Linked DNA regions of Homo sapiens: region 1 is linked to region 2. The links come from fine-mapping of genetic effects on gene expression. Tissue or cell type: whole blood. Region 2 holds a variant in brackets; the other region holds the start of a gene. All regions are shown on one strand. Distances are from middle to middle. Region 1 holds the start of CLEC2A (C-type lectin domain family 2 member A). Region 2 has its middle 7.9 kb from the start of CLEC12A.

Region 1 (5,391 bases), 32 kb before region 2:
AAGTAACCCTCTTGAACTCTGGTATTATTTTTAATAGTTTTCTAGTTGATTCTATTGGTATTTATTTTTATATAATCAAATTATCTGAAAATATTGCAGATACAACTCTTCCATTGCAATCCTTGTCCTTTATAATTCCTTTTGTTTTCTTATATCACTGGTTACCTTTAGCATTGTACTACACTATTGCTAAACAGTAGTAGTTACAGTGAACATTTTTTTCTTGTTTTTAATCTTAAATGGAATGTTTAAATTTTCATTATTAAGCACTGTAAAAATGCTGTATAAATTTAACATACAACATTAGCAATTTAAAAAAGAATTTTTCTATTCCTAGTTTCTTAACAGGGACTTATCTCAGATAGACATTGAATGTTATCATGTTTCCTTGTTGTTATCAAATGCACTTACTGAATAATTGTGTGGACTTTCTTTCAAAAAATTTTAATATTTTTTGCACTGATATTCTGATATCTAAGCATTCCTAACATAAATCCACTTGTATATGAATTTTTAACTGCTTTGTTGTATATAGTAAATAAATATTTTCTTGGAATTTCTACTTCTAATTTCATAAGAAGATGAGTCTGTTTCTTTTTGTCTTGTTCTGACTTTGTTTGGAAATCAAAAAGTCTATTAAATCGGGGTAAATTTCTCATTTTGCTGTTTTTTGAAGCAAGATGTCCAATACAAAAATTAGCTATTTCTTGAAAGATCAGTAGATTACTCTATTTTAGTTGCCTTTTCAATGTATTTATTTTTAATTTCTATAATTCTATAATTATTTATTTCTTCTCATTACATTTTGGCATTTTATATTTTTTAGACCTCTACCTTCTTTTTTTAATATTTATAAGCGCATTAGTGTTTTAGTTTGCTAGGCCTGCCGTAACAAGTTGTCACAAACTGGGCGGCTAAAATTAACAGGAATGTATTGTCGTACAGTTCTGGAGACAAGAAGTCTGAAATTAAGATGTTGGTCGGATGGGTTCCTTGTGAGGCCTGTAAGGAAAGAATCTGTTCCAGGCCATTCTCCTTGGCTTGAAGATGGCATTCTCCCTGTATATGGATCCGTCTCTAAATTTTCCTTTTTTATGAGAACACCAGTAATATTAAATTAGGTCCCAACCTACCGACCTAATTTTAACGTGGTAAAGACACTATCTCCAAACCAGATCACATTCTGAGGTAGAGGGGGTTAGAGCCTCAATATATAAAATTTTAAGGGAACAGAGTTTGCCCCATAATAATTGATGAATTATTTCCATAATGTTTTATTAAATTTTAATATTTGTGGTTTTTGTGATTATTTGTACTTTTTTGATATTTTCTTTATTGTATCGTCTTCTGCAAACTTTTAGACATCTAGTTCTCTCGTCTTTTCTAATAGCCACCATTTGATTTGTTATCCCTCTCATTTCTTCTCTTTTTCACTAACGTCTCCTATTATCTCATTTTTTAATTTTGTATATTTTTCTTTCACTCTATTGTGCCAGATGCATGTTTTTTTCTTATCTATTTTGTTTGTACACTTTTGAAGTTTCAGTTTGAGGTATTTGGCTTTTATTAGTTTTAGAAGTTGGAATATTATTTCTTCAAATATTTCCTATCCGCTATTCTTTTTTTCTCTCTCTCTGTTTCAGATTCTTGTTATCTAGAAGGTGGCATTTCTACTTCTATTTTTCATATCTCTCAGCTTTTATTTTATATTTTCTAACTGTTTTCTTTTCTGTCATGTTTTTAATAGCATCTCCTAGGTCTTATTCATTCTTAATCAGCGTCCATTCTATTAATTAACTCCTCAAAGTGTTCTTTATTTCAAACACTATATTTCTATAATTATTATTTTCACTTGGTTTTTATTGTGTTCTTGGTGCTTCTTCATTTCATTAATATCTTTTCTTTTGGAGCATTTTTATTATGCTTTAATTAAATTCTCAGACTAGATGTTCTAATGATTCCTGCAGCCCGGCTTTCTCATAATCTTCCAGTACATGCTTCACAGTACTTCATATTTTGTCTTCTCGTTATGCAATGAGATAAATTTTCTTCCACTTTTTACTCTCTAAACTCTTAAATCTGTTACCCAGACAAGCCTGACTAATTTATTTGGCTAAAGGGATGGAATCTTATTTCTTTTTGTAATACTAATGTCCAATTGTGTAAAATGTAGACTAATTTTTAAAAATTTTCTTATGAAGTTTTCATAGATCAAGAGTTCGTAACTATGACCAATAGTTAGAATATACAACGAAGTAAATTTAACCTTACCCTAAAGAAACTTCTAAATAGAACATCCTTAAATTAAAATGGAAAGTCTTCTAAGACAGAGAGATATTATCACTGAAAACATTCTAGTATAGGCTGCTAGAAATGCTGTAGCTAGAAATCGTATGGTAGATGAAAAGTTTTACTAGGTAGCTACTGAGGTCTCTTCAACCTTTAAGAGTATCAGGCTTACTTATTATTAAAAGAATTATCCCAATTGCCCTGGGAATTCATATCAGTAAACTCTGATAGTGGTTTCAGCTGGAGTCCTTAACTCATTTCAAGATTTTACTTTTTATCTCTTCACTGTCTTTATCTTAAAGTTTTGGCAGGCTTCCTATTCCAGTCATTTGGCATACAATTCATTCGTTTTCTTTAACATAAACCCTCAGAACTATTGTGAATGGAGGGTGTTTGTATGTGTACCTTGTTTTTATTTATTGGTTTGTTTATGTTTCAATCCACTGAAAACAAACTTCATTGTTGGCCTTAGCTGAATCTTAAAATTTTTGAAAAGTTCTTTTCAGTCTTATGAAGTCACAATCATCAAGCCTCCTTCCAGAGTGAAGCATTTGCTTTTTATTCTGTATAAAAGTGTTAAGCAATTTTTTCCCTGTGAAAGTACATTTTAAAAATATTCTTATTGAGATATAATACACGTACCATAAAATTCTGCCCCAAAACCTTCTTACACACAAGCTTATACCCTCTCTTGCAGACATAAAACTCTACATGCTCTAACAGGCTTCCACAATTCTCCGGAAGTGCTTCCCCATCCCTCACTTACTTTAGTAGACTTTCACAGTAAGTAAAGAGTCCATATTTTTAAGCTGTCCTGTATTTTGTTTTATCTTTCCTTTACTTCCTTCTCATTCACTCTATAAAACTTACCTATCCGATGTATGAAGCCATCAGCTCTGCCATCCCGCAGCTCTGGATTAATCATGGCAAGGCGCTAACCGATGGAGATCAGTAGGAGAGGACTAGAAAGCTTTTCATGTACATCACTTATTTAGGCACTGAGCAAGCTTCAGTCAAAAGAGACTTAACCAATCCAAATGGAAAACATCAGTACTAATTTTAGATCAAAGATAAAAGTAGGCAGACTTGTTAGTTTAAGGAAGGAATTTAAAAATTAACTCATCCATAACAAAAGGATCGTAAAGTCAATCATGTAAACACCACAACAACCGTGCTATGGAACATTTCCATCATCTTTCTTTTTTTCCTTGTGTAATCACTATCTTTTCTGACCCTGGACCCTGGCAAGCATTACTTTGCTTTATATCAACATAGTTTTTCCTTTCATGGAATTTTTTTTTTTTGAGGCAGGGTCTCACTGTGTTGCCCAGGCTGGAGTGCAGTGGGGAAAACTTGGCCCATTGCAACTTTGACCTCCTTGGCTCAAGCAATCCTCCTGCCCTACCCACCCAAGTAGCTGGGACTACAGTCGCGCACCATCATGCCCTGCTAATTTTATTTTTTGTAGAGACTAGGTCTCATTATATTGCCCAGACTGGTCTTGAACTCCTGGGCTTAAGTGATCTTCTGGCTTCAGTCACCCAAAGTACTGGGATTACAGGCATGAGCCACCACGGCCAGCCCCTTTCATAGAATTTTATATAAATGGTATCATATAATATGTAGTGTCTTGTCTCTTGCTTATTTCATTTATAATACTTTTGAGATTCACTCAAGTTGTTGTGCAGGTAAGTAGTTCATTCCCTTTTATTTCTTAGTAGTATTCCTATTGCATGTTATACCAGAAATTATCTCTTTGATCACTAGTTGATGGACTTTTGTTTCTAGGGTGGGACTGTTATGTATGAAACTGCTGTACACAGGCATTTTTGTGTGAGCAAGTTTTCTCTTGGATAAATTCCCAGAAATTGAATTGCTGCATCATATAAGTATGTTTATCTTTATAAAAAGCTGTAAAACTGGCTGGGCGCGGTGTCTGTCACCTGTAATCCCAGCACTTGGGGAGGCCGAGGCGGGTGGATCATGAGGTCAGGAGATCGAGACTATCCTGGCTAACACAATGAAACCCCGTCTCTACTAAAAATACAAAAAATTAGCCGGGCCTGGTGGCGGGTACCTGTAGTCCCAGCTACTCGAGAGGCTGAGGCAGGAGAATGGTGTGAACCCGGGAGGCGGAGCTTGCAGTGAGCCGAGATCGTGCCACTGCACTCCAGCCTGGGCAACTGAGCAAGACTCCGTCTCAAAAAAAAAAAAAAAAAATTTGCTTCAGCCTGGAATCTTTGCTTTTGGTGCTTCGGTGCAGAGACAGAAAACGGGCACTCAGAGTCACACTGGTAGTTGCACACTGTATCTGCAGAGGGCGTGTCTCATCTGTACCCCGCTGGGTTACGGGATTTCAGGAGGTATTTTTGTCCACCTGCGAATTCCATTTATTACCTTTCATTTAACAGACAATGTCTTTCCTTTCTGCAGTTGATTTTGCTAAAGAGGCAATTCATAAGGTGAGGTCCTACTCATAGTATGACTTGCTTTCTCACGACCTCCTTCCATTTTTAGTAACTCCCTGGTCTATTTGGTGTCTGTAAAAAAAGAATCTGGTAATGGAGACTTCTTTTAATATGGAAATTTGGCCTGGCAATAACTTATTCCTTTCCACATGTAACTGACCCAATCTGGTTTCCAGATGACAAGTATGCAAGCCCCAGATGTTGAGAAGCCATATTTCAACTGCTTCCTGCATCTGTTGAAATATAATTGTTCATACTTGCCATCCCTTATGTTTCTTGTAACAATTTGCACAGTTCTTGCCAGAATAAATGCCATTCTCTGTATGCTTCAGAGAATTCCGCAATTTGATCAGTGTGTGTGTGTGTGTGTGTGTGTGTGACCTTCCGTAAAACACTTCTAAAGGGTGAAAGCTCTTGTATGGCATAGACATGAATTCCTTCCTCTGGTAATAATTAGGTTATTTCCAGAAGCACAGTGTCATTTTTTTTTTTTTTTTGAGATGGAGTTTCTCTCCTGTGGCCCAGGCTGGAATGCAATGGTGTGATCTCGGCTCACGCAACTTCCACCTCCTGGGTTCAAGTGATTCTCCTGCCTCAGCCTCCTGAGTAGCTGGGATTATGGGCATGCACCACC
Region 2 (5,391 bases):
GAGACTGCAGATCCTTCACCCAGCATGATTTTTTCCCTACCTCTGCCTAATTTCTATTTTTCCCCTGTCCACGTAGCATCAAACTCTGTAAAATATTTGAAGAGATTTATTCTGAGCCAAATATGAGTGACCATGCCCGTGACACAGCCCTCAGGAGGCCCTGCGAACATGCACCCAAGGTGGTTCAGGTACACATTGGTTTTGTACATTTTAGGGAGACACGAGGCTTCAATCAACTATAAACATTTACTGATTGGCAATTGGTTGAGTTTATCTAAAGGTCTGGAATCAATAGAAAAGAAATGTCTGGGTTGTGGTAAGAGGTTGTAGAGACCAAGGTTTTATCATGCAAATGAAGCCTCCAGACAGCAGACTTGAGAGAGACTTAAGTATTAATGCCTGAGAGATATAATGAAGCGTGTTCGACACGCACTTCCTGTCATGGCCTGAACCCATCTCTCAGGTTAAATTTTCAAAGAGCTGTGGTTGAAGAGGGAGTCCATTCAGATGGTTGAGGGGCCTTAGAATTTCATTTTTGGTTTACACTCCCCACACAGCTACATTTCTGCCTGCACATAGCTACATTCCTTCCTCACTATATAACCTCCCAATTTTAGTTTGTTGGAGAACAAAGCCAGAATAAAGCCAATCCTAGTCATAGCATTGCAACTTGTATCAGATGAAAGAAACCTACAAAAAGATAATTATAAAATTTAGATAAAATGTATAAAACAACTGAGAAGGCAAAATTTGAGGGGCTCCAATTAATCAAGGTTTACCGCTTATATTCTGTGTGACTGCCAGAAAAAAAGAAACAAAACTTTTTGGTAGGAAGATCATTTAAAATTTCTGTTTTTAATACATAAGGCCTGTTATTTAATAAAAAATTATGAGACAACCTAAAAAAAAAGAATTAAATATCAAAACACCAATTGACAAGCCAAATGATAAAAACTGGCCTACATATGGTTCAGAAAATGATTTCAATAAATCTACTCTTCACCATTCTAATCCCTTTGCAGTGCCCTAGGATGGTGACTGACTCTCATGTATAATATCCCTGGACACTATTGTCCTGAAGCTCTAGGTATGTTTGTGCTAATAGGAAGAATAGGCAAAAGATTTAAAGGTGGGAGAATCCTTCCCTACAGCACTAGGAAATGGATATGGAGTTGTTCTCGCTGAGTGTACCTCCAGGGAGGCAGCCTTCATCAGCTATAGTTTCTGCTGCTTCAGTTAATTGCTACCAGCAATGTTCTCTCAGGCCTAATGTAGTAATGGCTTCCGGCAGTAGCTAGCCCTGGGGTATTTCACTATCCCTCATGGTTTCCTTTGGTCTTATCTCTATCTTGTAAATTGTCCTGTTATTTTATCTTCTTAAATTTTCCTTTTAATGTATAACCGGTTTTTTCTTTTTTTTTTTTTTTTTTGGATCCCAAGTGTGTGTTTCTTTTTGGTACCTGAGTATATCACTGTCACTGTGGTCTCTCAACTTTTAAATTATGTGACTCTGAAGGTGTGTGTCTCCAAATTTTTATCCCTGTGCACTTTTCTTCACCTGTCTTCATTTCTTTCCCTTTTTTCCGTTATAACTTTCACTCACATCCGTGTGAAGAGACCACCAAACAGGCTTTGTGTGAGCAACAAGGCTGTTTATTTCACCTGGGTGCAGGTGGGCTGAGTCCGAAAAGAGAGTCAGCGAAGGGAGATAGGGGTGGAGCTGTTTTATAAGATTTGGGTAGGTAGTGGGAAATTACAGTCAAAGGGGGCTTGTTCTCTGGCGGACAGGAGTGGGGGCCACAAGGTGCTCAGTGGGGGAGCTTTTGAGCCAGGATGAGCCAGGAGAAGGAATTTTATAATGTCATCAGTTAAGGCAGGAACAGACCATTTTCACTTCTTTTGTAGTGGAATGTCATCTGTTAAGGCAGGAACCGGCCATCTGGATGTGTATGTGCAGGTCACAGGGGATAGGATGGTTTAGCTTGGGCTCAGAGGCCTGACATTCCTGTCTCCTTATATTAATAAGAAAATAAAAATGAAATAGTGGTAAAGTGTTGGGACGGCAAAAATTTTGGGGGCTTGGTATGGAGAGATAACGGGCGATATTTCTCAGGGCTGCTTCCAGCGGGATTAGGGGCGATGTGGGAACCTAGAGTGGGAGAGATTAAGCTGAAGGAAGATTTCATGCTAAGGGGTGATATTGTGGAGTTGCTAGAAGAAACATTTGTCATTTAGAATTATTCGTGATGGCCTGGATACGGTTTTGTATGAATTGAAAAACTAAACAGAATAAGAGAAGGAGAAAAACAGGTATTAAAGGACTAAGAATTGGGAGGACCTAGGACATCTAATTAGAGAGTGTCCAAGGGGGTTCAGCATAATTACTTACTTGGTTGGCAAGTTTTTGGGCTCTATCCTTGAGTTTTTTATGTTGTCATACACCAGGCCAGATTGATTTAGGTAG[AAAC/A]AACACTCTTCATTTAAGAATATACAGAGTCCTCCTTTTTCAGCAGTGACTAAGTCAAGGCCTCAGCGGTTTTGGAGGACAACTGCAGCTAAAGAGTCAACTTGGGCCTGGAGGACTGATAAAGTTTGTGATATGTCTGTGATGCTAGCAGAGAAGACACTAGAGAGGCTATGGAAGGTCGTGACAGAGGTTGAAATGCCTCCTATTCCAGTACCGAGAGCAATAGTGGAGGCAGAAAGTCTTAAACTGATAAGCAAGGGAATTAGTGGAATAACTCTTTTTTGTCGTGTCGGTGTCATGAGGGGAACAGGGAGCTCTTCGGTCCTATTTGCAAATTGAATTTTAGGAGTAAGGAAAACTAGTGTGCATGTACCTGTCCAATTAGCAGGTAGACACATGGAGGTAGAGGATCCACAGAGGAAGAAGAGACCTTGTGCGAGGCAAAACTGGAGAAGCAAAGTAAAAAGATGAGAAGGAGTGCTGAAAGGGGTGTCTTGTACCCAGACTCCTGGGGATCCAGCTAGGGCAGCAGCCATCAGAGGTTGTAATGGGGACTGGTGGGGTAACTGCGTAGAGGGGGAGGTTCGATTTTCATGGTGTATGAGAAAATGTTGAGTGTCTATGAGCTACCTTTCACTGTTATTTATGGGGCTGGGTATAAGTAAACAACAAGAGGGCTTTGGAGATGAAGAGTAAAGGAACATCAAAGTGAAAGGTTACCCAGGGGAATTCCAGTGGGTCTTTGCTGAGAGATACATAAAGGAGCAGCCACAGGAATAGTAGTTTGTGTTGTGAGAGGTAAATACGGGGGGAGTAGAGTTGATACAAGGAGAAAGGTTTTTTAAGTAAGTGTGGAGGAGGGCGGCAGCTTGCTGACGTGAAATGTCTGGGGAGGTCTAGCTGGACCTGTCTAGAAAGTAAATGAGTTCATCAGGAGGGTAAAGGTGAGGGCTGTTAAAGGAAGTTTGGAGGTGTAGGAGACAGGAGATGTTGCCTAGTCTGCATGTAAGGTGGGGACAGCTGTGTAGGCATTGGAAGAAAGGGAAATGCAAAGCTAGAGTTTGTTCGCTAAGGAGGGATTAGAAACAGCTAGGAGAGAATGAGTAATGTTTATAGTGTGGTGGAGATAGCTGGGGAGAGGTAGAGGGTGGCATAAGAATGGGAATGAGAATAAGATTGAGTATAAAAGTAAAGAATAGAACTTCATCAGGGTGAAAGTATTGGAGGGTCCCCTGCCAGCAAAGATTATCTATCCCCTCTGAGAGGGAGTTAAGAGTTGCCAGTCCTGGGTGGGGGCAAATCCTCGAGCTTGATGTGTAGGGAAAGGAGGGGGCCTGAATAATCTATGAGGAGGAGTAGAATAGTAGATGGAACAGAAGTTATTTCCTTGAGGATAGATTTCCACGATGGAAAGGAAATGAGAGGTTCTAAGAGGTGGGCTGGTGACTTGTACTATAGCATAGCCTGCCTTTGCTGGTGTGTGGCGATTAGGCCTGGTGGAACTACTATGAATAAACTAAGTGTGTTCAGGGTGAGGAACACGAAAGAAGGAAATATGAGGAAAAGGGGTGAATGTCAGGTGAATCAGAGAGATACAGTCATAGGGGTCAGGTGTGGTATCCAGAATACTGTGGGAGGCTGGATTGAAGTCTGGGCCAGGAACAATGGTAATTGTCAGAGACTTAACAAAAAGGGAGTGTAGCTGAAGGAGCCAGGGAGCAGAAAGTGTATGCGTCAGGTGGGAGAAAGAAAATAGATTTTGGAAATTATGAGAACCGTAGAGAATGAGTTGGGCATAGTTTGTGATTTTTTGGGCCTCTAAAAGTATTAAAGCAGCGGCAGCCACTGCATGCAGACATGAGGGCTAGGCTAAAATGGTAAGGTCAAGTTGTTTGGACAGAAAGGCTACAGGGTGCGGTCCCAGCTCTTGTGTAAGAATTCTGACTGCCCTAACCATGCCTAGGAAGGAAAGGAGTTGTTGTTTTGTAGAAGGGATTGGGGTTTGGGAAATTAGCCGGACATGATCAGCAGGGAGAGCACATGTGTTTTTATGAGAATTATGCTGAGATAGGTAAGAGATGAGGAAGAAATTTGGGCTTGACTGAAGTAATGGGGGCTGTCTGTGAAGCCTTGCGGCAATACAGCCTAGGTAATTTGCTGAGTCTGATGGGTGTCAGGGTCAGTCCAAGTGAAAGTGAAGAGAGGCTGGGATGACGGGTGCAAAGGAATAGTAAAGAAAGCATGTTTGAGACCCAGAACAGAATAATGGGTTGTGGAGGGAGATATTGAGGATAGGAGAGTATATGGATTTGGCACCATGGGGTGGTTAGGCAAAACAATTTGGTTGATAAGGCACAGATCCTGAACTAACCTGTAAGCCTTGTCTGGTTTTAGGACAGGTAAAATGGGGGAATTGTAAGGGGAGTTTATAGGCTTTAAAAGGCCATGCTGTAGCAGGAGAGTGATAATAGGCTGTAATCCTTTTAAAGCGTGCTGTGGGATAGGATATTGGCATTGAGCGGGGTAAGGTGATTAGGTTTTAATGGGATGGTAAGGGGTGCAGGATCAGTCGCTAAGGAGGCAGTAGAGGTGTCCTATACTTGTGGGTTAAGGTGGGGAGATACAAGGGGAGGATGTGAAGGAGGCTTTGACCTGGGGGAAAAGGTGGCAATGAGGTGTGGCTGTAGCCTAGGAATAGTTAGGGAAGCAGATAATTTAGTTAAAGTGTCTCAGCCTAATAAGGGAACTAGGCAGGTGGGGATAACTAAAAAGGAGTGCTTAAAAGAGTATTGTCTAAGTTGGCACAAGAGTTGGGGAGTTTTAAGAGGTTTAGAAGCCTGGCCATCAGTACTTACAACAGTTATGAAGGCAAGGGAAACAGGCCTTTGAAAAGAAGGTAATGTGGAGTGGGTAGCCTCCGTATT

What was found.
Region 1: it holds the start of CLEC2A, and the variant in region 2 is fine-mapped to the expression of CLEC2A in whole blood (TOPMed, PIP above 0.99).

The regions. Positions count from the first base shown.
Region 1 is chr12:9,929,116-9,934,506 of GRCh38, forward strand. CLEC2A (C-type lectin domain family 2 member A) reads right to left here and starts at 3,255. Exons shown (of 5, transcript NM_001130711.2): 1 at 3,160-3,255. The coding sequence starts at 3,214.
Region 2 is chr12:9,960,842-9,966,232 of GRCh38, forward strand. It overlaps a transcript of CLEC12A not described here. Among named protein-coding and RNA genes, the nearest start is that of CLEC12A, 7.9 kb to the right of the region's middle. The variant AAAC/A (reference allele first, on the strand shown) is at 2,465.